Linked DNA regions of Homo sapiens. The protein of the gene in region 1 purifies or fractionates together with the protein of each later gene. This does not show direct contact. Each region holds a gene or a part of one and is shown in the gene's direction. Other genes may lie near its edges.

Region 1 (4,050 bases):
GACTGGGACCTGGCAGGCCCCCCAGAGGAGCAGGGGTTCAAATGCCTGGAGGCTGCTGCTATCTCCCCTAGTCCTCCTGCTGCCGCCATGACTGTCGTTGGTCACGGAACTCTTCCCTCTGCTCCACCCTCAACTGTCATTGGCCAGGTGTAGGGACCCATATAGTGTTATATCAAGATTGTTGCCAATCTAGAGTTACCGAGGCAGACGGGCAGACTGGGAGCAAGGTCTGGACTGCAACCTTCTGTGCTGAGCCCAGCCTTAGGGTGGTCAGGGTGGATGAGCAAGGAGATCCTGGCCCCAGGCTGGCCTGGCTTCAAGCTAGCCAGGAAGGAGAGGAAAGGAGGCCCAAGAGGCGTTCGACCTGCCTGAGGCCATGTGTGGGACTCTGTCCTGCGTTTTGTCAGCCCAGGCTGCTCTCCTAAGCTCCGATGAAGTCTCTTCCCTGGGCCTGGTGCTCCACGTCTCCCTGTCTCTTCCCTGGGGCCTGGGGCTGAGTCAGGCCTGGGGGCTGGTGGGCACTGAGGTGACAGGTCAGCAGGGCTCGAGGAGATGGTGGAGGCCTGTGCAGAGGGAATGACTGAACTGGAAGAAGCTGCAGAAGGGCATTGGAGGAGAGGGACTAGCATCTGTGCCTGGGAGTGATGGTGGTGAGGGCCTGCGGGAGAGGCACCCTTGGCCTCTTGTGCCGGCTCTGCTCTGTTCTCAGCATCCTCTGTAGTGACTTGGGGGTAGCAGTGGCCTCTGCCTTAGCTGGTGATGCGGTTGTCAGGAGGCAGGTAATGAGCGTGAGCTCTGGTCAGTGTCTTAACTGGTGAGAGCTCCGTGAAGGCTGTCTGCTGGGACCAGATGGCCTTCGAGATTCCAGGATGCCGCCTGACTTACCGGGCTTTGGTTGCCCCTTGTCCTGTGTGGCGGAGTGATGACAGCTTTCTTGGGGGCTGCTGGTGAGCTTGGACATCATGTGCACAGCACACATGCAGAGCCAGGACCATTGTCATCAAGTGCCCAGAGCACAGGTCACAGGTCAGGTCTGTAGTGGAAGGTCTGTGTGGAGGCTTTCTAGGGCTCTGCGGAGCAGTGATGTAGTACAGGGCAGGGGCTCAGAATGGAGTTGCCTGGCATCTTGTTAATACTCTGTGTGTGTTTCCTTATTGCCAGTGAGTTCCCATGCACGAGCGTTTAGGGGCTGGAACCAGGCTGAGGAACCAGGCACTGTCCTCCAGAGGGCGGGAGCCAGCTCCAGATGGGGACAGGGTCAGGGCCGGGTGTTGCCAGCTTTGTTCTTCCCCCACAGAATCTGTCTATCCCACCCTGGGTTCCTTCAGGTCCTGGTCAGTGACTATTCTGGGAGCCCCTCCCTTCCAACTTTTCCTCTTCCTTGTTCCAGCCCAGGTGCTGGGTGAGAGGATGGTTGGGGTGTGTTTGTGTGTGAGTGGTGTCCAGGCAACGGCCACAGCCTGGAGATGCACAGACTTCCTCTCTTCCCCCTGCCGCCGCCCCATGCCTCCCACGTAGCCTTGGGGGATTTGCTGGGCCAAGCAGCAGCCGTGTGCTGGAAGTCATCGGGCATCTGAGTTTGTTGAGCAAATACAGGTTGAAGCAAATTTGAAGCCAGAGGTTAAGGCCCTGCCTCTGCAGTGTCTCTCCCAAAAGTAGGGATAGTGGACCCAGACCCTCATGGGGAGACAGGGCCCGAGGCCCCTCAGTGCACAGGGTCCAGCCTCTTCTCGCAGGCCCTGCACATGGTCCACACCTGGGGACTTCACCAGGCCTGAGGCCTCAGGTGTGAAATGACCCCCTGGACCTCAGGCGAGGCGGCCGGGAGGCTGGAGATGGGGGAAGAGGGGCAGGCTCGAGGGCAACTGCAGGAGCCTGGTGCTCACTGGGAGCCTTAAGCCTGAGTGATGGAGGCAGTGAGCCTGCGGGCAGTCCCGGGGCGGGGCCGGGCTCAGCATGAGGCAGAGGGCTGGGACTTGGGGAGAGGCTGTGCCCAAGGTGGGCACTCAGCCCCTGTGGTCAGTGCCTCGTCCAGTGGGGACTCCCTGGGGCGTCTGACGCGGCGCTGGTTGTGTCTATGCCTGCAGGGCGCCATGTTTTGGAAGTTTGACCTGCACACAAGCTCGCACCTGGACACGCTGCTGGAGCGGGAGGACCTGAGCCTGCCCGAGCTGCTGGACGAGGAAGACGTGCTGCAGGAGTGCAAGGTCGTCAACCGCAAGCTGCTGGACTTCCTGCTGCAGCCACCCCACCTGCAAGCAATGGTGGCCTGGGTCACCCAGGAGCCGCCAGATAGCGGTGAGGAGCGGCTGCGCTACAAGTGAGTTCCCCAGCTCCTGGCCAGCCCGTCCCTATCAGCATCACACATACCTTCACTACGCAAGCCTCACAGCTACCCTGAAATGCGTCAGTGTCAGTAAACTCCAGTTTGGGGATGAGGAAGACGAGGCTGGGAGCAGCCAGGCTCCTGCACAAGGCCTCACAGCTCACCGGGTGCAGACCAAGCCTGTGCTCTGGAGGGCAGTGGCACAGTCACGGGTCACGGCAGCCACAAATTCACGGGCCCAGGTGATCCTCCCGCCTCAGTTGCCCGAGTAGCTGGGACCACAGGCATGTGACGACATGCCCGGCTGGTTTTTCTCTTTATTCGCCGCCTTTTATTTTATTTACTTTTTATTAAACTTTTTTTGTATGTTTGTGAAACACTTGTCTGCTATTGAAGACACTTTACTTATTTTTTAATCCAAGCGATGCTGAAAAGACACTTTTTTTTTTTTTTTTGAGACTCACTTTATCACCAGGTTGGAGTGCAGAGGCATGATCGGCTCACTGCAACCTCCTCCTCCCAAGTTCAAGTGATTCTCCTGCCTCACCCTCCTAAGTAGCTGGGACTATAAGCCAGCACGCCCAGCTAATTTTTGTATTTTTGGTAGAGACAGGGTTTCGCCATGTTGCCCAGGCTGGTCTTGAACTTCTGACCTCAAGTGATATGCCTGCCTCAGCCTCCCAAGGGGTACCTCCCCACAGTCCTGGAGCAGACTGTGGCCCCTCAGGGCCTTGAGTGGCACGCTGGTGGGGCAGCTCTTGTCTTGGAGCCGTCAGGCACCGTGTGAAAGTTTGGAGGAGGGAGGCAGGAGGTGAGGTTGGAAGTTGAGCAAGGTTCCAGGAGTCAGCCGGAGCTGGGGCAGCATACGGGGTTGCAAGTGAAGCCGCTGAGAGGCAAAAGGGATGAGTGTTAGCTGCTGGGGGATTGGGAAGCGCAGGAGCTTCAGGACCAGCTTGTCTTGGGGGTGGTAAGGAGCCTAGGATGGGATGGTTGGGTGTTAGCAGGGTGGAGGAGGCCTGGTGTGGGCCCTTGTTTCTGCGTCACCCTGTCCTCTGCCCTTTCCCCTTCCTGGACAGGGGTCTCTGCAGTTCCCAGAAACCCAGTGCCCGGTGCAGAGAAGAGGGTGGAGCCTTGCCGCCCCCTGCCCCCGGCCTCCGACCCGAGCCCCCACCCGCCTGTGCTTGCCTCCCAGGTACCCCAGTGTGGCCTGCGAGATTCTGACCTCAGATGTGCCCCAGATCAATGATGCCCTGGGTGCTGATGAGTCCCTTCTGAACCGGCTCTACGGCTTCCTGCAGAGCACCGGCAGCCTCAACCCACTGCTGGCCAGCTTCTTCAGCAAGGTCATGGGCATCCTCATCAACCGCAAGACAGACCAGGTGCCCTGGCCCCCACCCTGGCGCCACCGTGGGTTGAGGGGTGGTGGCTGGGCCAGGCCCTGTGCATGACGCAGCCCGTGTGCCCCCAGCTCGTGTCCTTTCTTCGGAAGAAGGATGACTTCGTGGACCTGCTGCTGCAGCACATTGGCACCTCGGCCATCATGGACCTCCTGCTGCGCCTGCTCACCTGTGTGGAGCGGCCTCAGCTGAGGCAGGATGTTGTCAATGTGAGCAGGGCCGGCTCCTCTGGGGGTGGGGGGCTGGGCGTGGTGGACAGCGATGCATCCCTCGCCTTCTCACCCTCAGTGGCTCAACGAGGAGAAGATCGTCCAGCGGCTGATTGAG
Region 2 (4,563 bases), on another chromosome or scaffold:
TGATCCTTTCCCACCCGTGCTCCTTCTTTTCTGCCTTGCAGTCTGCTTTAGATGGTGCCTGTTTCCTTTTTAGTTTCTGACCATCCTCTGGGAAACTAAAGTTCTTCAGGAGGCTGAACTTCTCCTTCCTTGGAGCATCAGAACCAGGTAATGAGAACACCTTTCCAACTTCAAGACCGAGTTCACCTGGTCTGTTGATTTGCTGCTCAGCACTGCCTACCCAGTAGATGCCTGCTGGCTTCAGGGGAAGCTCTCTTCTCTCCCCTTTCTTCTTCCCACTGGGAGGGCCGAGCTGCTGGTCAGGCTTCCCACAAGAGTAGTTTGGCTCTGCCCTGGGACTATGGTCTTCCTGCTTACGAAAACAGTCGGAGGGGAACTTCATCTGTGGGTTCCTATGTCTGCTTTCCCACAGAGTCTGAAACTGCCTTCTTACCCCTTTTGATATAGTTGGTCCCCGAGGTTCTTAATACTTTGGCACAATATCTATGAAGGAATCCCTTTAAACAAGAGAAAATGCTACCCTGAGTGAGGGGTGGGTCTTCAGGCTTGGGATCTCAGACTTGGCTACCTGAGATCCAAGAGATCCAGAATTCTCAGCCTTTGGGGCTTCACATTGAGTTATTTGAAAAATGGGTAACATATTGGCCATTTTTGGTTTTTAAAAGGTAGAAAAACAAAAAACCTAACCAAACAACAACAACAACAAAAACACAAAAAATGCAGAACAGGGATCGGGGAAAAGGAATTTGCTCTCATGTTCCTGACTGCACGGGTGAGAGTTGGCATCTAACAGAAACAGCTACTCCCAGGAGGAGCCCCCGGACCAGGCTGGGACGCAGTCTGGGCATGGCCAATGGTGCAGACCCCTGCCTTCACCCCTGAACACACTCCTTGGCTTGCTTGCTTTTCATAGCATCCTACGGGTCTTATATACTACACTGAGCATGATACTCTCCGAAACTGGGTTGGAGAAGGGAACAAATCCTTAACTATCTAGCCATGTGTCTCCCGTATGTCTCTCTGGGTCTATACATAGACTCATCTCATCATTACTAGGTTTTGAGTTAATATTATTAGCTCCATTTTACAGATGAGAAAACCAAGTCTTAGAGAGCTTGGCAGAGGTCACATAACTTATTAGAAACTGAGCTGGGAATTTGAGATGGTTCTGTCTTTCTACTACACATGCGGTTTTGCCCTTCCATGTGGCATTTCTCCACGTCATCTTTCTCTTTAGCCCTGGCTGGCCTTAGTGGTTCAAGGTGATCCACTGCCTTGCATTATCACCAGCTCACACCCCGCTCTGGATTGGCGTGAAGATTTTCACTTGAGTGTGTCACTGAATGATGCCATTGGAAGCTTCTGCTGATAAGCGTGGGACCATCTGCTTGGCACATCTCAAATATTTTCAGCAGTGGGAGAGCAGCTCTGATTCCTTCAGAGATGAGAGGCTGCAGCCATCCTTCGAGATGTTGGGACCGGAGACCCTGCAGGCTGGCTGGGCATTGATGCCCCAGATGTGAAGGGGCAGCCAACCTGTTGGCCACGTCTGACCCTTCCTGAGCAAATGACACCAGTGAGTCTGCGTCCCAGTTTTTCATTGCTTAGCTGTCCTTGACAACCAGAGTAAGATTTTCTCTCTTTAAAAAGCTATTTCTTGGATAACTCTTTTCTGTGCTGGTTTTTCTTTCTTTTATTTTTTTCGGTGTGTTAGATGTTTGCCGTTGGTGTGTGTTGGCAAAAACTTCTCTTTCCTCCTGCCTTTGTTTTGGAAAATTTACTTCTTTGCTGAGTTAACTGTTCCCAGACATTGTTTTTCAACTTCAGGGTTGAAACTTCGCAGTAGCGTTTTCTTTTTTAACTCGTTGCAGGGGAAAGAATCTTAGGATCAATTCACAGTTTGAATGGTGGACTTGGAGGTTTTCAAGGCTGCTTAATGAAAGCTTATGAATGATAAAGAAGTTGAGGTTTGAAAGAGTTGTTACTGAATTTGATTCCTCTGGAGAAATCACTTGGCTATCAGCTCTTTGGCATCACAGGGGCAAGCTGTATTGATTTTTCTTCATTTTTCCTTAGTGGGCACTGGCATCAGTATTAGCTTCTGTTGCTTATGAAGCCGTATGCATTCCTTTGGTGACAAGATGTCTGTTAAAAGGAATCTCCTGCCCAGTCTTGATCTTTGGTATGAGCGTCTTAGCAACACTTCCCAGCCAGGATACTTAGGAGTAATTTGGTGAGAGAATGTATAGTGTGTTGTTAGATTGCTATGGGTGCAGCAGTAAAAAGGTGGTAAGAAGCTGGCCTCTAGCAGAGTGCCACGGCCTCGGCACTACTGGCATTTTGGGCTGGGTAATTCTTTGCCGTGTGGGCTGTCTTGTATATTATAGGATGTTTAGCAGCATCTCTGGCCTCTACCAACTAGATACCAGTAGCACACTCCTCTCCATTGTGACAACCAAAAATATCTTCAGGCATGCCAAACATCCCTTAGGGGACAAAATCACCTTCCCCCCTTTTAGACCAGGGCTCTAAATTGATCCTGTGGTATGTTTGGAAAGGGAGCAAGAAGTCTCTGCTTCTGCGTACAGATGGCCCTAGTGTGGGGAAGACGGGAATGATGCATTTAATACCAGGACAGATGGTCCTGCCCTGTACATTCCCATCGGAGCCCTTGCCTGCCATGGAAATTCCATCTCACAAATGGGTTTCTGTTTGTCCAGGTGACTGCACACACACACAGGGAAGAATTTGCCCTTTTCTCTGGATCTGCACACCTAGAAATCCAGCCTAGGGTCAGGCTGTCTTTTAAGTTGCCTGGGAACAACAGGCGCTTTCAGATGGCCCACTCCCCCAGCCTGAGTTTTATTGGCTTTTCTCTCTTTCCTTTTTTCTCCCTGCCTTTCTCCCCAGCCCCCTCTTTCTTTCTTCTAAGAGTGATGTCCTAGGCTGGGTATCTGGGGCCATGGAAGGACTGTGCTCAACTGAATGGGAATGTGGAAGGGGTTGTTTGCTTCTGAGGTCTCTAGAGAACACTTGAGCAGCATAAATGTATGGCATTTAGAACTCTCTGCTGACTCTGAGTCTCCTTGTTTTTTCTATCAGCTCCACCACCCATCTGTTCCTCTCACTTTCATTGAGAGGTAATTGCAGCCAGCAATCTCAGGTGGACCTGGCAGGACACAGGCTCTGCAAAGCCCACATCCTTACACATCAATGGAAACCACCATGCTTGTTTTCCCTGCTTGTTGATTCATTATCTCAGTTTGGCATTTCCATGAGACTCATATTGGCAAAGTGCTGTTCAATCTCTAGCATTTCTTATACCCCAGCCTTTCAAACTACATTAAAATGCCAGCATGTGAAGCAGTTGAGACCCAGTGGGGTTAATCTGCTTGATGGAGGACTTGCCTCTCATGGTCAGTTTGACTGAAAGTGCAGCTCCCAGGCCAAGCAGCCGTAGGCACAAGCAGAATAGGCTGTGGCCTCTGCACTGTACTTTGATCAATGTCAAAACCCCTCTTCTCAAAAGTCTCTTCTGCATTCAGATGCGATACTGCCCACAATTCTTTGAGTTTTGCAGGAAGGTGGTGGGTGTTAAGTCCTACTTTCCACCATGGTCACCCTGGCTTATGGTGTCTTGTGTGAGGTGCTGGAGCCTGAATAGGCAAGGATCATCCCCATGGGGGCAGCCACGCCGGGGTGAGGGCAGTGGCAGTGGTGACATGGCAGGGGATGTCAGTGCTGGGCAGGGCAGGATATCTGCATGGGGGGTACAGGGAACTGGTGCTGGGTGTTGGAGCTCCTGCAGTGTGAGGTCTGTGTCTCAGGGTAGGGGGCAGGGGGAGCACTGGTCCAACAGGAAGTAAAAGGGCCCAACAAAGTGAGGAGGGCATCTGTGCAGGGGCAGGGGAAGAGCAGTGGCAGACATAGGCAACCATTCATAGGTGGGTTGATCAAATGAGTAAATGCATAGAGGGCCAAGGGAGCCAGGTTTCTCAGAGAAGGGAGTTACAAATATGGAGAGGGAGAAAACTCAAATGAATTCACTGGTGGTGGGTCAAAACTGGAGATATTGGTGTCAATTTATGATTATATGTATATATTTTATAAAGATATAAAAAGACATAGAAATACAGCCATAGGTGTGTGTATGTATGACTATACATAAATGTTATCTATGTACATATATTCCTTAGCCCTGCCACTGAGAGGGGCTGGGAGCAGCGACAGCCTCCATGCAATGAGCACATTTTACACCCAGATCTTGGCTTCTAAATATAATTATTTACTGAAAGGAACCAGGGCTCCTTGGAGAAATGGCTGATTCTAGGCACTAGGGCAGGGGACATACAAGATTATGGTAAAGTGTCCAGTTTTTTGTGTTGGAAGGCTATTAGGCATATTGGAGGAAGTGTGGACCAGCGGGGAAGGTTGGATTGCTGTTTTGGCCCACTGAGACTGCTCTGCCACCTGATGAGGCTCAGTTGGAGATACCCAGGACATTTGGGTATATGGGTCTGACATGCTGGGGAGATGTGTGAGCTAAAGCTGTGCATTTGGATT
Region 3 (4,050 bases), on another chromosome or scaffold:
TCTAGACCCAGGTGGAATGCATGGTCTTGGGGCCTTGGTGGGGGTCGTGGGCAGCACCCAGGTCTAGACTTGGGTGACGTGCATAGCCCTGGACTTGAGGAGCAGGATTCCTGACTGGCTTGCTGTGAAGGGCACCACTGGGGCAGTGACGCAGCTTCACACGCAGCTCGGGAAGCACACAGTCGGCGCAGATGCTTCCAAAATGTCTGCAAGGCTGCGGCCTCTACTGCATCCAGATGGTGAACTGCCTAACTCTACCGCGTCCCGATGGTGAACTGCTAACTCTGCCGTATCCCGATGGTGAACTGCCGAACTCTACCGCATCCCGATGGTGAACTGCCAAACTCTACCGCATCCCGATGGTGAACTGCTAACTACCGCATCCCGATGGTGAACTGCCGAACTCTACCGCATCCCTATGGTGAACTGCTAACTCTGCCGCATCCCGATGGTGAACTGCCTAACTCTACCTCGTCCCGATGGTGAACTGCCTAACTCTACCACATCCCGATGGTGAACTGCTAACTCTGCCACATCCCGATGGTGAACTGCTAACTCTGCCGCATCCCGATGGTGAACTGCCAAACTTTACCTCGTCCCGATGGTGAACTGCCTAAACCTCGTCCCGATGGTGAACTGCCTAACTCTACCGCATCCCGATGGTGAACTGCCTAACTCTACCACATCCCGATGGTGAACTGCTAACTCTGCCGCATCCCGATGGTGAACTGCCAAACTTTACCTCGTCCCGATGGTGAACTGCCTAAACCTCGTCCCGATGGTGAACTGCCTAACTCTACCGCATCCCGATGGTGAACTGCCTAACTCTACCACATCCCGATGGTGAACTGCTAACTCTGCCGTATCCCGATGGTGAACTGCCAAACTTTACCTCGTCCCGATGGTGAACTGCCTAACTCTACCTCGTCCCAATGGTGAACTGCCTAACTCTACCACATCCTGATGGTGAACTGCTAACTCTGCCGCATCCCGACGGTGAACTGCCAAACTCTACCTCGTCCCGACGGTGAACTGCCAAACTCTACCTCGTCCCAGTGGTGAACTGCTAACTCAGCCGCATCCCGATGGTGAACTGCCAAACTTTACCTCGTCCCGATAGTGAACTGCCTAACTCTACCGCATCCTGATGAACTGCTTAATGGCGTTGTCCCTGGGTACACATTGGGTGCAGCTCCTGCAGTCATGGGCTGCTCACAGCCGTGGCCCTTTTGGCACAACCATTGTTCCTTCTTGTCTTGGAAACGAGGACCCGAGGGAGACCATCCGTCCATCCTAAAATTGGGACGTTTGGTTTTCTGTTGTTGAGTTGGAGTTATTTGTAGAGTCTAGAGATCAGTCTCTAGGAGACGTGTGATCTGCAGACATTTCCCTCCATCTCTGGGTTGCATTTTTCTGTCCATTGATGGTGTCCTTCGATGCATGAGAACAGCCTTTGATGTACATGTAGGGGTTGGTCAGGCAGAAGGACGGTGTGGGTGGAAGCGCTGATGCCTGAAGAAGGGCACCGTAGGCAGAGAGACCGCATGGCTGGCTTGCAGGGCTGGGCCCGCACGGAGAGACAGATGTGCACAGACACACACACAAGCCCACTGGGCAGGTGCACTCCGTGGGAGGGCGTCGCTTATGTTTAAAAAGTGCCCGTTTCCAAGCCCCTTGGAGAAAGTGTCATAAAAAGACAAAACGTGAATGGTGTTTCTAAGGTGGGGGAAGGGGCTGAGCCCTAAAGGTAGAAGCTTCTGGAAAGTTTCCAGAGGGCCCAGAGCCTGTTTAAGATGTCGTGCCTGCGTTAAGTGTCCAGAACTGTCTGCTCCTTTCAGTTTCTCTTGGACTGACCTTTTCCTATAAAACTGTAAGGAAATAAAAAGTAATGATGTGATGTGGGCCGGGCACGGTGGCTCACACCTGTAATCCCAGCACTTTGGGAGGCCAAGGCGGGCGAATCACCTGAGGTCAGGAATTTGTGACCAGCTTAGCCAACGTGGCAAAACCCCGTCTCTACTAAAATTATAAAAATTAGCCGGCTGTGGTGGTGGGCACCTGTAATCCCAGCTACTTGGGAGGCTGAGGCAGGAGAATCGCTTGAACCCGGGAGGTGGAGGTTGTAGTGACCCGAGATTGTGGCACTGCACTGCAGCCTGGGCGACAGAGTGAGACTCCATCTCAAAAAAGAAAAAAAGGCCGGGTGCAGTGGCTCACGCCTGTAATCCTAGCACTTTGGGAGGCTGAGGCGGGTGGATCATGAGGTCAGGAGATCGAGACCATCCTGGCTAACACGGTGAAACCCCACCTCTACTAAAAATACAAAAAATTATCCGGGCATGGTGGCGGGCGCCTGTAGTTCAGCTACTCAGCAGGCTGAGGCTAGATAATGGCGTGAACCCGGGAGACGGAGCTTGCAGTGAGCAGAGATCGCACCACTGCACTCCAGCCTGGGTGACTGAGCAAGACTCTGTCTCAAAAAAAAAAAAAAATACCAATGTGGCAGGCAGGCTGGTGGCTGTCTGAGGTCAGTCCAGAGTCCGGAGAAGCAGCATTTTATTTATTTATTTATTTATTTATTTATTTATTGAGTACTGTCACCCAGGCAGGAGTGCAGTGACATGATCTCGGCTCACTGCAACCTCCACCTCCCAGCTTCAAGTGATTCTCCTGCCTCAGCCTCCCGAGTAGCTGGGATTAAAGGTGCCCACCACCACACCTGGCTAATTTTTTGTATTTTTAGTAGAGACGGGGTTTCACTGTGTTGGTCAGGCTGCTCTCAAACTCCCGACCTCATGATCCGCCCGCCTCGGCCTCCCAAAGTGCTGGGATTACAGGCGTGAGCCACCGCGCCCGGCCAGAAGCAGCATTTTTAAACTTGTTTGGCCCTCCCTAACACCAACCTTGGCAGTTCCTGGGCTGCAGTAAGCCGAGACTTGGAAATACATTCGCCTTGGAGAATTCAACTTCAAAATGCATACGAAGTAGGTCAGGGTGGAAATAAAGGCACTGCCCTTTCTCCAGGCACGCTGGAGTCCACGCCCTGCCTTTGCCCAATGCCCTCTGAGGGAGAGGCCCTGTGCCTTGCACCCAGCGCGGGCCACAGGCGGAGGCCCCATTCCAGGCAAGCCGTGCCCATGGAGAGGCTGGCCTGCTAGGCTGTGGGGCCCGATGGCCTGACACTGTATGGACCACGCTCCTGCCCTGCCCTGCCCCGCCCTGCCCGTGGCCCGTGTGCAGAAGTGGGCAGGCCTGGGTTGCTGGGCCAGAGCCCCGAGATTTCCCCCTGCCCCACTGGCTGAGTGTGGGGGAGCTGCTTCTCCACTTCCGCGTGGGTCTTGGCCCTGGGAGGCCAGTGGCCGAGGCTGGTCTCGCGGGCGCTCGCTCCAGGAGTGGCGCGTCCCCTCAGCGCCCTGTGCTTCCTCGCAGGGATCGACTACAAGACCACCACCATCCTGCTGGACGGCCGGCGCGTGAAGCTGGAGCTCTGGTGAGTTGGGGCTGCGGCACTTCAGTTCCTGGGTGAGGACACAAATGCCGAAGGGAGAACAGAACCCTTAGAGAAACAGGAAGGCGTCCTGTTTGCATTTCACTTGGAAGAGCCACTTACACAGCCCCTGTTTAAACATAGAATGGATTTTACTCCAACAGGAAAAAGACAGTCTGGGACACTGTGTCCCTAGAGATCGCGGCTCCCCTCCTGCCCCGGAAAACCTGATTCCGTGGTGGCTGTGAGCCCCTTCCCTCCCCTTCTGTCGGCTTCACCTTAAAAAGCATTTCCCAGCGGGGTGTGGTGGCTCACGCCTGTCATCCCAGCACTTTGGGAGGCCGAGGCAGGAGGATCACCTGAGGTCAGGAGTCCAAGACAAGCCTGGCCAACATGGTGAAACGCCATCTCTACTAAAAATACAAAAATTAGCCAGGTGTGGTGGCGGGCGCCTGTAGTCCCAGCCACTCAGGAGGCTGAGGCAGTAGAATCACTTGAACCCGGGAGGCAGAAGTTGCAGTGAGCTGAGATTGCACCACTGCACTCCAGCCTGGGTGACAGAA
Region 4 (4,050 bases), on another chromosome or scaffold:
TCCTGACCTCGTGATCTGCCCATCTCAGCCTCCCAAAGTACTGGGATTGCAGATGTGAACCACCATGCCCGGCCTAGAATTTTCTTTTTGGACTTGAACATAATTCCTCAGGATGCTTTCCCCTTTAACCTTACTTCGCAGGAATTGTTATTGACTTTTTAGATTGGAATATAAAGGAATTTGGGATCCCATAGTCTGCTAATTCCATTTTCTTTTCCTGTCTTTTAACTAAAATATTGACGCACTTTCTGTATGTTTGAAAAATATTTCATAAAATTTAATCCACTTAAAGAAACCCACTCCTTTCCCCCAAATCTTACAGCTAACCACTGCTCTGAATTTGGTGTTTATTATTCCTATGTATTTCTGTACAGCTTTATTACACATGTGTGTTTCCTTAGACAGTGTATAGTATTGTTTTGTGTATTCTTAAACTTTATATAGATGGTACTGCATGTATTCTTGTTCAGCATACTGTTTATTTTATCCCCACTCAAAATCACTTAGCAGTGTGGTTTCATGAATTGAGTTTCAACTCAATTCATCAGTGTGGGTTCATGTAGATTTAGGTCATTTATTTTTACTGTGACAAGTTAGTACATTTTAGGTCTATACCATATTTATTTCCCCTTTGCTCTCTTGATAGACTTTTAGGCTGTTTCCATTTTTTTTGTTATTACAAACATTATTACCGTTAAGTATTATTGAACACAAGTCTTTGTTTTAATTTTTGACACTGTAGTTAACCTGTGCTCCTTTTTCTCTGTTCTTCACATTTTTGTCTCGGCCTTCCTCTAATCGTTTCATTATTTGAGCTAAGGTACCATTCTTTGTCCATTATACTTAACAGTACAAAACTGTAATGGGCACTTTTCCTCGAAGGCTCTTTTTAGTAATCTTTACTTTAGTTAACTTTCTTTGCTTTTTTTTTTTTTAAATAAAAATATCTTAAAATATAGAAATATCTTGAACATATTTTACAGATATATATTATTTTACTTGTAATTCCATGCATGACTGCAGGGATAATTCACGTGTACCCTTTCTCTTGGGAAACGTTTCTGTGTTGATGTACATTTGATTTAGCTAATTCTGTATTTTAGTGTTTGTTTCCTTTAAATATTTTCCTCTAAATGTAGTGCACTTTTTTCATTGCAGTTTGGTGGGTAGGAACATGAGCTCAGAGTTAAGATTGCTTGGATTGGAATCCGGGCTCTACTTTTTAGCTGTGTGTCTTTGGGCAGCGTATTTAATTTCTATGTCTCAATTTCTTCATCTGTAAAATGGAGATAATAGAAATCTACCCGTAGATTGTTGTGAGATTCAAATGAGGTGTCTGGCATAGTCATTACTCAATACATATTAGCTATTTTTATTAGTTTTATTTTTTGTTAGAGTATGCAGTATTTTCTAAGCCTACTCAGTTTGTGGTGTTGCCTTCTTTTTTGAAGCAGCATTTTAACACAGACATCTATGCCTCAAGGAAATGTGTGATGTTTTATAACTGTTAGTGGAGATTGGGAAGAGATACTGTAAACTGTAGCAAACCATAAGTTGAGGTACATTAACTAGATTGTTATATTTTAATATCAATAATTTAGGATTTGGTTGGGCATGGTGGCTTATGCCTTTAATCCCAGCACTTTGGGAGGCCGAGGAGGGCGGATCACCTGAGGTCAGGAGTTTGAGTCCAGCCTGGCCAATGTGGCATGAGTCCAGCCTGGCCAATGTGGTGAAATCCCGTCTCTACTAAAAATACAAATTAGCTGGGTGTGGTAGCGGGTGCCTGTAATCCCAGCTACTTGGGAGGCTGAGACAGGAGAATTGCTTGAACCTGGGAAGTGGAGGTTGCAGTGAGCCAAGATCATGCCATTGCACTCCAGCCTGGGCAACAGAGGGAGACGCTGTCTCAAAAAAAAAAAAAAAATTAGGATTTATCGTGTTTCAATTTTTTTGAAATACGTATAAAGCACTTTGAAAGTGAGTTGACATGGTGAAATTCTCAGATAATTACCAAGGGTCTACTCTTGTTAGTTTTAAATACCTTTTGTAATATGACCCTGATAATGATTCAGATGGTGTTTCTAAGTATATTATCCTATGTCATCAACCTTGTGTTGTTCAGTGGAGAAGGAACCATTGCCATCCATGTATGTAAAGCTTCATAGGTAAATTTGAGCGAGTGACTTAACCTTTCTCAGCCTTCCATTTCAATTTCTGTAACATAAAGATTTCAATTCTTACCTCACAAGGTTATCATGACTTATGTTAGTTGCTTCCTTCATCTCTCTGGCTCCCCTGTCTTCTCTTGTAACTTCCTTTTTTTCTGTTTTCCCTATGTATATTCTTTCTTCCTCTTTATCCCTTCTCTGCCCTTCACAAGTAGTTTTTTGGTAAATGGTAACAAGACATTCTGAACCAGTGTGTGAGTGAACCCATTATATTAATAAAAATACACATTATTTAAAGGGGACTAGGAAATGTTAATTCTGTAAGGACAAGAGGATTTAGGCCATATGAAGTTACAGAGGAGATGCTGTAAATGTTAAATGAGCAGTATAAAGGACAGAGAGGTCATGTTTTGCCACAGTAGCCAGGGAATGGTCAGCTGAGCAAAATGAGACTAATGTTAGATTTGAAGAAAGATTTGTGAGGAAGGTATTCACATAGGATGTCCAGTGGGCAGTGGAGTTTGGAAGATTGGCAAATAAAACTGAGCCATCAACTGCTTGGGAGGACTCAGGAAGCTGTGAGGATAAATCACATCCCATGGGGAAGAAAGGCACATGGACTTGGAGGACAAAAGCAATTAAGACCTAGCGTAACCTCTTTATTTATTGATTAAACTCTGAAAGTAGTTGTTGAATGAATTAAACCTTCTAGGAATAGAAAGGGAGAACTAGCAGCTAGCAAATGGAGAGAATTGAGTGGCTCTGAGTTGTTGCAGGAGGAGCTTTGAAGGTCTGGCCCGAGTTGTTTGTAACCCTGCCGTTGAGACTGGTGGTGTGGCATTGTCTGTGCCATTTAGTCTGACTGGACTTCTGGTTTTTTTTTTTTTTTGGTCTGTAATCCTTTCTTGCTTTTGGGGGATGGAGAGGGATCTGCTTCATCACTGTTCTTTTTACCTCCTTTTCCCCCTCCTTTACTTGACTCAGGATTTTTGTTACCTGTGCCATATTTATTTCTTAGGTGTCTTTGACTTTATCAGTTAGCTTTGTGCATTTCCCCATGTATTCATTGATGTGTTTACTACCTGGAATTTAATGGGGTGTTTGCATGAGTCTCTTCCTCTTTTGACATCTCAATAAGCAAGATTCTCATGGAAACCATCTCAGAGGCAGTGGGCAGTAAATAGATGGAGTGAAAGATGAGGCAGAACTGTTTCTCTGCATTCTATATTGAGATGTACAATTGTTTAACAAATAATTACAAAAGAAAATGAGTGCCATGAGAGAGTGCCCTAAGGGGTCAGCGGATGGGTAGAGAAGTTCAGGCTGGGGCTAGGGCCAGTGGAGGTTTGGGTATCAGAGAATGCCTAATCAATTTAGATGCTAAGAGATAACTAGGCTTTGAATGTATGCAGAAGAATAAAGGACATTCCAGGTAGAGCTAACAGGGCAAAATGAGCAAAGGCAGAGAAGACAGGTAAGGGAGACAAAGAAGTGGATGGAATTGATTTGTTTGTAGTGTGCGAAGTAGAGAGTTGGAAGGTGAGAGTTGAAAAGTAAGCTGACTTCAAGTTGTGGAGAGTCTTAAGTACTTGGCAGACGAGTTTGGAATTGTTTTTTATTCCTTCTTTTTTTTCCCCTTTTGGACAATGAGGAGGGAATTGAGATTCTTGAAGAGAGGATTGATGTGAAATACGGGTTATAAGGGAGTGGCAACGTCACACTGGCAACATGAATGAAGGATGCATTGATGGAGGAGGGGGAGAGGGGACTAGAGACAGAGGAATAGTTAAGGATACAGTTGAATTCTGCCAGGTGACAGGAGTAAGGACCTGAACTGATAAAGTAACACGTGAGAAAGGGCAGGAGGCAGGGGATGACA
Region 5 (4,050 bases), on another chromosome or scaffold:
AGCACAACATGAATTATAACTTACCTTTGTTGGTTCTAAAATTCTAAGGAAGATGATACAGAGTTATTGAAGTTAATCTCAGAAAGGTTAAGTGATTCCACCTAATAATTTATTTTTTTTTGTCTGGATTGAATAAAATATATATAAAAGTATATAACAATTGTGAAATATGTGGCTTAGTGCATGACAAATAAGCCCTCAGTAAAAGGTAGTTATTATTATTGGAATTATTGTTAGTGACACCTGATATTTTCAATGGTAGTTCATATCTAGTTTTCCTCTTTGGCCAAATCAGGAATTTCAAAAATATTGAAGATTGCCTCATGATATTTGCTAAACTTACTTAATTTTTCTGAAGTTAACTTCATCAAATAACATGTGCCTTGCGGAATTTTTATAAAAATGAATGATGAATTTAAAGTGTTTTGTTGCCAGTATTGCTGTTATTTATATTTACCAGACATGATAATATCGCATGAATTACTATTGGTTGAAATAAAAATGCTAAGACAAACTTAACACATTTGCTGAACTTAACTCTCTAGCACTTAAATAACTTAATGCATTAACATAGAACAGCAGTTCTCAAGCTCTTTGGTGTCAGGACCCCTTTATACTCTTCAAAATAATCGAGGACTCCAAAAGAGTTTTTGCTTATGCGGCTTATATTTATTGATATTTATGGTATTAGAAATTAAAACTGAGAAATATTTAAAATATTTAGGAATAATTTTATTTTCAATAATAATAATAAACCCATCTAAGGTTAACATAAAAACATATTTTTGAAAACTATAATCTCCAAAACAAATCAGAGAGAAAACAGGCATTGTTTTACAGTTTTGAAAATTTATTGTATTTATTTATTTATTTATTTATTTTAGATGGAATTTTGTTCTGTCACCCAGGCTGGAGTGCAGTGGCGGGATCTCGGCTCACTGCAACCTCTGCCTCCTGGGTTCAAGCGATTCTCCTTCCTCAGCCTCCCGAGTACCTGGGATTACAAGCATGTGCCATCATCCCTGGCTAATTTTTGTATTTTTAGTAGAGACTGGGTTGCACCATGTTGGCCAGGCTGGTCTTGAACTCCTGACTTCAGGTGACCTGCCCACCTCGGCCTTCCAAAGTACTGTGATTACAGGCGTGAGCCACTGCACCCGGCCCACAGTTTTGAAAATCTCTTTTAATATCTTGTTTGACAGAAAGAAAGCTAGATTCTCATATATGTATCCACATTCAAACAGTTGTGATATGTTGTTTTGGTTGAAATTTATGAAGAAAATGCAGTTTTAAAGACAGTTAGGAAAGGAAAACCTAGCAAGCTTTCTAACAGTCTCAGACACCCCCCTAGGGTCCTTGAATCACACTTTGAGAACTGCTGACACTTACCTTTTATTTTTTTTTAAAGTATTGAATAAGACAGTGTACAACATATATTGTTATTAATGCTGCTTTTGTTGTTGCTTTTTATAATTTCCTCATATGTTTGAAATAACTTGAATTTCTTCTTGTTTTGTTGATTGCATTCATGGTTTCTAAAAACAAAAGAAAATTAATGACAGTGCAGATTTGGTAAACTGGTTAAGCTACTTTGCCAAATAATACCTGTCTTATAAAGTTTTTAACCAAATTGAGATAATACATTCTACATCTGTAATGTCAGTAATATACATGGCTCAGTGCCTGGCACATAGGATACACTCAATAAATGGCAGCTATTAGAATCACCCTTTCCTCAATGCACAAAAAATAATACAAATAGATGCCAGGGATAAAATTGGCCTCATCTACCCAATAACAGCTTCAGCTTATCTACAGTGACTTTGCTACCCTCTCTTGCTGTCCCTTGACAAGGCCTACTTTAGGCTCAAGAATCCCTTAGACAAGTGAATAAATCATTTAACAGAAGCGAGCTAACATTACTCTGGAGTTGGTCTCTAAGTGATACAAACTTCCACCAATCTCATGGCCTGTGTGTGAGGCCTTCCCCAGAAACGTCCAAGTGTGTCTATGAATACTTAGAATATATGCAGCATTTCCTGTGGGAAATTGAAGGTACATGCCTCAGTCATGATGCCTCCAGGGTGAAAGCAAATTCCCCAGATTGAGTCTCTAGCCCCACGCTGTAGTATCTAAGGTGCTGGGTGGTTGGCAAGGTAGGAGATTGAAGAGGGAAACACCACTCCTGCATCCTTTATTGCTTTTGCTGTAAGGAACCTGGAAAGGTATAACAGAGTTTCCTATCAACACATTGTCAGAAAATGGCCTTCTTCCCTACAGTTTTATCAAACAGGTGGTTGAATGTTTCTATTTAGGGATCCAAATGTTTTTTTGCTCTGGAAGGAATCACTTCCAAGATTAGCAGTGGCCAATCAGTTTTGGAGACTTTTTAAAATCTGAGGCTTAACAGTGATGTTACTCTGTTTCAGAAAGGACCTCTATGTCTTCTTTTCTCTTTTTTTAAATTGAAAAAAATTATTAAACTTTCTGTTTCATAGTTGACTTTCAAAGATTACAAAGGTAGAATTATAAAATAAAGCCCATGAACTCATCATCCAGCTCCAAGATTTATCAGCCTGTGGACTGTCTTGTTTCATCCATACTTTCATCCACTTCTCCCTCCCGTATTATTTTGAAATAACTCCAAACATCATAATACTTCATCTGTAAGTGTTTTAGTATGTATATCAAAAAATAAAAGAGCTGTCTTTTTATATAACCACAATATCAATACCTCACCTAAAAATTAATGAACAATAATTATTTAATATCATCCAAAGGCCAGTCATTGTTCAGATTTTTAATTGTGTCATGAAAATTTTTAACATGTTTTTGTTTTCATCAAGATCCCAAGAAGATCCACATATTATAATTACTTGATAGATCTTTTAAGTATCTCTTAATATATAAGTTCCCCCTCTAACATTTTCTCTTGTAAATTTTTTTAAAGAAACTCTTTCTTCTTTTAAAAATCTTATATTAACTTTCTGCAGACTAATCCGTCACTAAAATATGTTATTAAGGTTAAGCCAACACTGATGTCTTTAGGGCATGTTTGATCTGTGCTGTCTAGAGATTACCTTACGTTTATGATTTTTCACATAAAGATTTAAACAACACAGTCTGGCAGCTTTCTTAACTGCTTTTTTTTTTTTTTAACTCTTAAGAAATATATTCTGTGTGGTTCTGCTGTACTCTATATTCCCAAATTCCTGTTGAAATTTCCCAGGCATTTCATCAAACTTGGTGAAAAATCACTTTCTCTTTTCTCCTTCTAATAATTGTCATTCCACCCCATCTAGGTGCAAAGGTCTCTGCTTTAGGATCTGGCCATGCACTACTTGAGGTGACTTACTGTTTGCAGTGCCTCCTCATTTTCAGTCTTTCCTACTTTCTTGAATGGTGTGCCTAGGTTCAGAGCTATAGGTAGGCATGGACCAATACCCAGGGAAGTCTTGTCATATCTGTTGTGGCTTCCTCACCCTGTTACTTGGCTTCCTACTCTAGGAAAAGGCCAGTCATTTTAGAAATTCCATGTCTGAGGAAGAAGACTTAAAGATCACTTTCAAAACACTCTCTTCTTTCTATCTTCCCAGAGATTAAACATCCGTCAACATTCTCAGCAAGCTCTAGCAAAGAAGCATTGACTCATTGTTTTTTTTCCCTCTTGATCATCCAGCCAGACACTCTATACCTGACTAGGCATGTTAAAGCAACTAGTAAGGACTTTCTGTTTCAGGTTTGTCACAGTTGCTTGTGTGTTCTCTAAGGTCAGCAAGGATCTCTGAGAATGCATTTCTGTCTCCTCTCACAGTTCATGATGTAGACACCTACCAGCCCAGGATTCCTAATAATCTCTAATGGAACCCCACAAATACAATCTGAACTTCCCAGGCTTCGACTTCCTGTGGACACAAGACAGGACAGCAATCTCTATCTGTTATCTATTTATCTCTATGTATTGATGCAGGACCTCTTGAAGACCTACTGTGGTTATTTCTGAAAGCTTCCAGATATCTTACTTATGCTCAGGCACAAGATCACCTTCTG
Region 6 (3,972 bases), on another chromosome or scaffold:
TACTTTATGAGAGGAGTCTTTACTGTTTAATCTTGGTTTGTGGATTTGTTAGAAAAAATGGATATAAGCATTAAAGATAAATGTCCTTCCCTGCCCAAAAGGATTTGTTAGCATCAAAATCCATTTGGGTAGGGTGGAAATGCTCTTGAGCTATGGATTCACTAACCTTACCAAAGTCATAGCTAATATTGGTTTGTTTCTTTGGGTAAAAAAGGAATTATGAGGACCATACACAAAACTCTGCTTGGTTCTTAGTGCCAAAGCTCTCAATGTCCAAATTGAGGTGACAGGATTTGTATAAAGTGATTCCATATCAGGTGGCTATTCTGCCTATTCACTCTTTGAGTTAGACTACTTCTAAGATTCCTCTCTGGTCTCTATAACTACATTGATAGATGTCCTTTCTGTATTCATTACTAGTAATTAGTGTTTCTTGAGTCAAGAGTAACAACATCTGCAATGATACAAAGTAAAAGTTGCCCAAATAGAAGCCTCAGCCCTTTTGAGTGGCATATTAGTAATGAAAATAATTCATTAACAGCCACTTGTGAACTTCTTTCTCAAATGGAAAAGACCAAACAGAAGGTGAGAGGGGCTTTGAAGTCATAAGGAAGTTTTAGATTGTTAAACATGTTAATTGTATAATGTCTATAATCCTGCTTTGTAGTATGAGGATTGAAAGACCAAGATCCCTATAATCATCCTGGCTGAGAAGGTCTCGTGCTCCCTGCTGTGAAGCAGCTTTCTAACTGTGTGTCACCCTCTTCTCAGGTCATGCCTCAGCTCCTAAACTACCTGAAGGCTGACAGACTGGGCAAGAGCATTGACTGGGGCATCCTGGCTGTCTTCACCTGTGCTGAGAGCTGCAGCTTGGGTACTGGCTATACAGAAGAATTTGTGTGGAAGCAGGATGTAACAGATACACCGTAAAGGCATCTTAAAGCCTTGAAAAATGTTAATAATCTTTTATACCTTGCAATTCCATTTCTGGGATTTTATCCTAAGGAAATACTTATACCAAAAATAGAGGTGCAGAGATGTTGACAGATTGCTTACACAGTGTCTACTTATTAGTGAAACAAAAGTGTCCAGTGACAGGGAATTAAATAAATTTTGGTACATCCACAGAGGAAGGCTACACAGTCTTAATTATAACACCTATATTGACAACAGACATACCATTATAGGTGGTATTCATGGTATGATCCTATTCTTGTAAAAATATTTGTATGTATGCACAGAAATCTGCAAAGATGTACACTTAGTGAACTGGTTACCAACGAATGGTGGGACTAACTAAAATGGTCTTTTTACTTATATGTGCATTTCTTTTTATAATAAAAATGGGTTATATGCCTAATGAAGTCAAACCATCTCACTCTGAGCATTTCCCACCCTAGGTTTTTAAAACACAAAAATACTTAGGTAAAACTCCCAACAAACTTGTCTGATCATTAGCTGATTATCACAGGCTCTAGTATGTACTGGAAGCCCAGAATATTTGAGAAATACCAAACCTCAGGTTGGTGAGTATGATGAACAGGAAACCCAGTAATTCTGAAGCAGCAGTATCACAGTTGGCAGGATGAGGAACAACAGTGGCTTTGTGATCACAGAACTGGAATTTAAAGAGGCTGGACCTTCAGAACTGATCTTGGTCAGCCAGCGGCCCTGCTTACAGATGAGACACTGAAAGGCAAAAGGCGATGGTCTTCCCTTTCCGTGTCAGCATTGTATACAGGTTCCCTATCGCACATACAAGGGTTATGGAATGTAAGCCAAAATAAGGGTCTGGCCTAGGAGGCAGCAGCCTGAGGAAAGGAAGGCCCTGAAGTCAGTTTTCAAAGGGCTGACCCTTGGCCTATTATGTTTCTGATACATCTGTTTAAGCAAGCGGCTCCTAAGACTACACTAAGGTTTCTTCCATCCCCTAGCAGCTCACAGTTGACAATTCCCAGTTCTCTCAGCACCAGTGATGCCTGCCCTTAAGACACATTGCTGTTGATCAGTGCTTGAATACTGACGGCTAATTCTGATAAATTTCTCAGGCTTATTTCCTTAATCTACATTGGCTCACATTGTCCCCTAACACATCCCTGTTAACTGAAATGCATTGCCACCATAAATCCTCACGTTTTCATAGGTAACATCACTTGCTAATGTAATTGTCTACTTGGCTATTTTATTTGTAATTTAAAAAGTTCTGTCCTAGTAGTCCATATTATATAAGTATACATATGCAATTTGTATTAATTGTATAAGATAGTTATACATAGCACCATATGGGAAACTGCAGTATGGAGTTTCTCCCATGGGGAGGTTATCAGCTACTTAAGAGCTAGAGGATACTAGTTTCGAACCTGGGATGGCTAAATCTATGAAAATCACCTATAACTATGGTGTCACAGCCCTGTGGCTACTGGAGTAAGTTGTCATCAACTAGTGACAAGAGCTGGTCGCAACACTTAGTAGGAAGCACAGTGGCATAAGGAAACCTGGACTAGTGGGGCCTTTATATCTAAAATTATGTATTATTCCTTATAGGCAGAATCTGTAAGTACGTTATGACTGCTAATGACTTTTAAAGCAAACATGTTAACGATCTTTCTATGGTAAAAACTGTTATTTGGGGACATCACCAGATGATGTGGACATTCTTGCAGGTATTTTGGCATACCCAGGCAAGCTGTCATTGGTGTATATTCCAGTTAACCTCTGGAGATGATCGTAACAGTTTACAGGGCCTTTCCATTTGGGATGGATATATCAAGAGGGAGACAAACTGGTCCAAATCACCAGAAAGAAAATCTCACAGCACCGACTTGGCATCTGTGTTAAAAAATAGCAACTATATTTAAAATAAACTGTACAACATAAAAAATTTAAATTAAAAAATGCATTAAGCAAGTTGCCTTTAGAAATGTGAAGACATTTTAAAACACTACAAGATAATGAGCAAGTCTCACCTACATAATCATGGCTCCACAGACGGTGCCAGTCCATGCATCCACCATTTCTCAACACCTACAAAGTTTTAAGATCTGCTTGGTTCAGATACTGTCCAGCCACAGCAGCTCCCTCTGCTGTAGAGAGCAGCATATTCAGCTTTGCCTTTTTATTTCAGATACTGAATATCCTTTGGCAATTTCAGATATCACAGCAAAAAAAAAAAAAGTTCCAAGTGTTTTTGGCAATCATATTGGTGATAGTGTTTTTGTTACTCTTAAGAATGTTATGGTGGAGGTGGGAGGATGGCTTGAGCCTAAGAGTTCAAGAACAGCCTGGGCAACAGTTGAGTGACTTTGTCTCTACAAAAATTAAAAAAAATTAGCTGGGTGTGTTGGTGTGCACCCGTAGTCCTGGCTAGCTACTCCAGAGGCTGAGGTGGATCACTTGAGCCCAGGAGTTTGAGACTGCAGCAAACCATGATTGTGCCACTGCACTCCAGCCTGGGCAACAGAGACCGTGTCTCAAAAAAAATTGCACATATAACAGATAAAGTAATGATAAAGTAAATACGTAAAGTAAATGAGTAATTATGGGACATTCTAATTCCTCATCCCCTATGTCTTTAAGAATTAAAAATTCTCAGTGTAGAAGGAAGAGTGTAATACAGAATTGGTTAAATAAAAACCCTATAAGCTTTGAATTTGAATTGGATATACAATTGGTAAAATAACCCTATGAGCTTTGAATTGGACATATTAATATGAACTCATTTTATCTTGAAAACTTAAAAGGGGAAAGTATTCTGCTATATGGAGCACAACACTTTATAAAAGTATTCAAATTAATAAATGAAAAAGAAATGAAATGACTAAAATGTCATTTTGCAACCCACTAATGAATTAATAGATCTAGGAATTACACAGCAGCTTCCAATTTGCAGGAAATACAGAGAATAGGGAAACTACACCATGAATTTCCAACTAGCAAACCCCAGACTATGAGAAGCTCTACACACTAAATGGC
Region 7 (4,050 bases), on another chromosome or scaffold:
GATTACAGGCGTGAGCCACCGTGCCCAGCCAAGATTGAGTTTTGAAAAGAGCCTTCTGAGATTATGAGAAGGGCAAGCAAGATAACTTAAGAAGTTACATTAAAATCATCTAAGAGACAGTGTAACAAGAAGGAATTGTAAAATGATGTTATGAGCACGTGCCCAATGTAGTGGCAATCCCTTGTGCTTCGATACATTGGTGGGAGACAAAACTGTACTTAAATTGATAAATCCCTTACATGTCATTTTAAGGAGCTTAGACTGACTCCCATCATGTAGACATCAGAGATTTCTTTTTTTTTTTTTTTTTTTTTTTTTTTTTTTTTTGTGACAGAGTTTTGCTCTTGTTGCCGAGGCTGGAGTGCAATGGCGTGATCTCGGCTCACCACAACCTCCACCTCCCAGGTTCAAGCAATTCTCCTGCCTCAGCCTCCCGAGTAGCTGGGATTACAGCCATGCACCACCACGCCTGGCTAATTTTGTATTTTTAGTAGAGACGGGGTTTCTCCATGTTGTGGCTGGTCTCGAACTCCTGACCTCAGGTGATCCTCCCGCCTCAGCCACCCAAAGTTCTGAAATTACAGGCGTGAGCCACCGCGCCCAGCCCAGAGATTTCTAAACAGAGTTCTAACCAGATGCTTTTCCCTGTCAGTAGAATGAGAATGAATTGGAGGTGGGAGAGACTGGCATGAGGGACACCAGTCAGCCAGTGGAATTAGCTGGTAATGTTGATAGGAGAAGAAAAAGATTCAAAGTTAGGTAGTGGTAGCAAGAATTAGAGGGAAGGTCGGATTTATGATATGTCCAAGGTTGAATTCTAAGGTGAAATTTGGTGGCAGATTTCATGTGTAAATTGGGAAGGTAGATTGAGTTTTTTTAACATGGGTTTTCTAACATGTCAATAGAGTGACTCTGCAGGGGGGCCTGACGAGAGAACAGTGCATGGGGTGATTCAACAGCCAGTTGAGCCTTCATGCAGAGCATTTAACACTGTGACTCTGTAGACTCTGGTTGGCAGTAAAATTTCATTAAACCAATATTTAAACCCTTAGGTAATAATAAAAATTGAGGGAAAAGGATCCAGGTTTTGTATTTTTTATGAATTCAGTTATTGAATTAAACAGGACCTTGCCTCAAGAAATAATCTACCAACAATTAACTTGTTTTAAAGCAAAGTTAGGAAGTGAGCATGTTCAAATTATTAAATAAAAAAGTAAGCTGTGTATTTCATTCATAGAAATAGAGGCTGGCCTACTTCGGATGATTCTCAGCATGTGATTACAGATGTGGGCTTATACATCCTAGGGAGTTAAGGCGTACTCTGGCTTGGATAGAGTAGAGCTCTTTGAAACTCTTCTCTCACCCAGCTAGTTTATATAGACTAGAGAACTAGAATGTAGCAGCATACTCTGTCTTAGAAGCCCTTTTATATAGGAGCTGGTCTGGAAGGTTTGAAAACATAACAAATGTGTTGGTGTCTCCCAATGTATTGCTAGATTCTTACCCAAGAGCATTATCCTGGTTAGGGTTTGGTTTGGTTTTGTTTTGTTTTTTAATGTTTGCCACAAACTAACACTAGATGTTAGTTCTTTCATCAAGTGAGGAGAGTAGAAGAAAAGTCCAGAACTCTGAAACACCTTTTCAAAAGTTTTTCAAGCCATGATGTTTGCAAGTTAAATGCTCTGTTATGTAAGCAATATAATCAGTTTTTATTAATGTAACATTCCTTAGTGTTTTGGGGTATCACACAAAAAAGAATATCCATATCTGGAAGCAACAGCTTTTAAATAAGAGCATTGTGGTGGTGGTGGTGATAGTGGTTTTTTTTTTTTTTTTTGAGTTGGAGTCTCGCTCTGTTGCCCAGGTTGGAGTGCAGTGGCACGATCTCAGCTCGCTTCAACCTCTGCTCCCAGGTTCAAGCAATTCTTCTGCCTCAGCCTCCTGAGTAGCTGGGATTATAGGCACCTGCTACCATGCCTGGCTGATTTTTATTATTTTAGTAGAGACAGGTTTCACCATGTTGGCCAGGCTGGTCTTGAACTCTTAACCTCAGGTGAATCACCCACCTCGGCCTCCCAAAGTGCTGGAATTACAGGCATGAACCACCATGGCCAGCCAAATAAGAGCATTTTTAATGTAAAATTATGCATGAAATGTACATTCAATTTTGTCTTTGTTTACTAGGATCCATGTTCTCACAAGCTATGAAGAAATGGGTGCAAGGAAATACTGATGAGGTAAATCCTACCTTTAGGATAAAAAGATTTCTGTTTATAAGTGCCACCCTCATGTAAGTGAGGTTTAAAATTTTCCTTTTCTTTAGGTCCCATGTTTAAGCAGCATGGCACATTTATGTTCTCTTACCCAGAATGTACCAAGAAAGGGTGGTCCCTTCTTAACATCTAACAATTGCCTGGTAGTAGCAGTGAAGGTATCTTCAGTCAGAGGCTAGGACCACTGAAGGATATACATGCATTCAAGTTTCCATCAGCCAGCAGGCATCAGTAATCAGTGTGTAGATCAAAAGCTCAAATGTTTCCTTCCCCACTGGCAGTTTTACTTCAAGTAGTGGAGGCTTGCTTTTTTAATAGTTAATTAAGTACATTGAGAGATGGGAGGTGAAAAAAGGAAAATGTTTTATTTTGACCATCTAATATGAAAGTAGTTCGGTGTTAGGTATCCAGTAGTTGACACTGGAAGACAGGGAATGACATGTTAATATTCATAGCCAGAGGGTGGCCCAGGTTTTTTCGTACATGGGAATGAAATTCTTATCCAAATAAGTAGAAATTATGTGCGTAAGCCATTTGTTAAGAGCACTGAGTATGTGCATCTCGATCCATCTAATGAATAACCATTATCACCAGTTTAAATTATTTTCTTTAGGCCCAGGAAGAGCTAGCTTGGAAGATTGCTAAAATGATAGTCAGTGACATTATGCAGCAGGCTCAGTATGATCAACCGTTAGAGAAATCTACAAAGGTAAGGATGACTTCGTTTTGTGTAAACTAAAAAGTATTATTTTCCAGGTGTAAAAATAAAAAAGAACATAAGGGGTTTCTTTGCCTTTGAAGGATTAACTGCTGTGGGGATTACCTTCTTATCATAAGCAACTAGAAAATTGACAAACTAAATGAAACAACTGTTTGCATATATTGGACAATGGGCAATACAGGGAAACCATGGAAACCAAACAGAGCCCAGTAGTCTTGCTGAACGAAAGAGTTAAATATCAAAGTTCAGGCCAGGTGCAGTGGCTCACGCCTGTAATCCCAGCACTTTGGGAGGCCAAGGCGGGTGAATCACTTGAGGTCAGGAGTTCAAGACCAGCCTGGCCAACATGGTGAAACCCTGTCTTAGCCGGGTGTGGTGGCAGGCACCTGTAATCCCAACTATTTGGGAGGCTGAGGCAGGAGAATCGCTTGAACCAGGGAGGCGGAGGTTGCAGTGAGCCGAGATCACACCACTGCACTCCAGCCTGGGCGACGAGCGAAACCCCATTTCAAAAAAAAAATCAAAGTTCAGAGAGCTCAATTTGAGTAGAAGTTGTAGGATAAGGTAGCAGAAAAGAGGAAGCTGCCCAGAAAGAAAGCCGTAGAGATATTTAGAGAGATTCCCATGGATCCTTGGCCTAGGAGTGATCTGTATATGTGTGGGGTGAAAACGCATGTGTCCAGGTAGAGAACCCCCCAGAAATTAGTAGGCTGAATGATTGCTGGAACATAGGGCTAAGAAAAGTTCATGGCCAGAAGGATCTGGCCAGAGTAGAGAGACTTAGTAATACACAAGGCATTGGGTAGTGTCTTCACAGAGGTTATGCCTTACTACTGAAGATAAATTAGTCCTAGAGTACAAGCACCTGAACCAAGTTTCAAAGCAAATTTTTAAAGGGTCAAATTACCTAACAACTGCATGCCAAAACAAAGGCCTAACCCTCTTTACAGTAACACAACAAAATTCAGCACTTCACAGTGTAAAGTTAGAATGTCTGACGTCCAGGCTGGGCGCAGTGGCTCATGCCTGTAATCCCAGCACTTTGGGAGGCCGAGG

The links.
Region 2: the proteins of PPP6R1 (region 1) and MAS1 purify together in Homo sapiens (tandem affinity purification; one large-scale study listed by IntAct). This does not show direct contact.
Region 3: the proteins of PPP6R1 (region 1) and RAB40C purify together in Homo sapiens (affinity purification with western blotting; one study listed by BioGRID). This does not show direct contact.
Region 4: the proteins of PPP6R1 (region 1) and ACSL3 purify together in Homo sapiens (affinity purification with mass spectrometry; one large-scale study listed by BioGRID and IntAct). This does not show direct contact.
Region 5: the proteins of PPP6R1 (region 1) and HTR2C purify together in Homo sapiens (co-immunoprecipitation; one large-scale study listed by IntAct). This does not show direct contact.
Region 6: the proteins of PPP6R1 (region 1) and PDCD2 purify together in Homo sapiens (affinity purification with mass spectrometry; one large-scale study listed by BioGRID and IntAct). This does not show direct contact.
Region 7: the proteins of PPP6R1 (region 1) and AKAP10 purify together in Homo sapiens (tandem affinity purification; one large-scale study listed by IntAct). This does not show direct contact.

What each region holds. Positions count from the first base shown.
Region 1 is NC_000019.10:55,245,147-55,249,196, reverse strand, and holds part of PPP6R1 (serine/threonine-protein phosphatase 6 regulatory subunit 1), read left to right. Parts: intron 1-2,087; coding exon of another isoform or gene 2,088-2,093; coding exon 2,094-2,320; intron 2,321-3,518; coding exon 3,519-3,705; intron 3,706-3,794; coding exon 3,795-3,932; intron 3,933-3,946; exon of another isoform or gene 3,947-4,011; coding exon 4,012-4,050. UniProt on the Homo sapiens protein: Regulatory subunit of protein phosphatase 6 (PP6). May function as a scaffolding PP6 subunit. Involved in the PP6-mediated dephosphorylation of NFKBIE opposing its degradation in response to TNF-alpha.
Region 2 is NC_000006.12:159,889,558-159,894,120, forward strand, and holds the start of MAS1 (proto-oncogene Mas), read left to right. Parts: upstream 1-1,430; 5' UTR 1,431-1,576; exon of another isoform or gene 1,577-1,626; intron 1,627-4,563. UniProt on the Homo sapiens protein: Receptor for angiotensin 1-7. Acts specifically as a functional antagonist of AGTR1 (angiotensin-2 type 1 receptor), although it up-regulates AGTR1 receptor levels.
Region 3 is NC_000016.10:613,779-617,828, forward strand, and holds part of RAB40C (ras-related protein Rab-40C), read left to right. Parts: exon of another isoform or gene 1-2,486; intron 2,487-3,429; coding exon 3,430-3,490; intron 3,491-4,050. UniProt on the Homo sapiens protein: RAB40C small GTPase acts as substrate-recognition component of the ECS(RAB40C) E3 ubiquitin ligase complex which mediates the ubiquitination and subsequent proteasomal degradation of target proteins.
Region 4 is NC_000002.12:222,867,059-222,871,108, forward strand, and holds part of ACSL3 (fatty acid CoA ligase Acsl3), read left to right. Parts: intron 1-4,050. UniProt on the Homo sapiens protein: Acyl-CoA synthetases (ACSL) activates long-chain fatty acids for both synthesis of cellular lipids, and degradation via beta-oxidation.
Region 5 is NC_000023.11:114,901,748-114,905,797, forward strand, and holds part of HTR2C (5-hydroxytryptamine receptor 2C isoform a precursor), read left to right. Parts: intron 1-4,050. UniProt on the Homo sapiens protein: G-protein coupled receptor for 5-hydroxytryptamine (serotonin).
Region 6 is NC_000006.12:170,574,517-170,578,488, reverse strand, and holds the end of PDCD2 (programmed cell death protein 2), read left to right. Parts: exon of another isoform or gene 1-7; intron 8-771; coding exon 772-930; 3' UTR 931-3,194; downstream 3,195-3,972.
Region 7 is NC_000017.11:19,908,113-19,912,162, reverse strand, and holds part of AKAP10 (A-kinase anchor protein 10, mitochondrial isoform 1 precursor), read left to right. Parts: intron 1-2,184; coding exon 2,185-2,237; intron 2,238-2,886; coding exon 2,887-2,982; intron 2,983-4,050. UniProt on the Homo sapiens protein: Differentially targeted protein that binds to type I and II regulatory subunits of protein kinase A and anchors them to the mitochondria or the plasma membrane.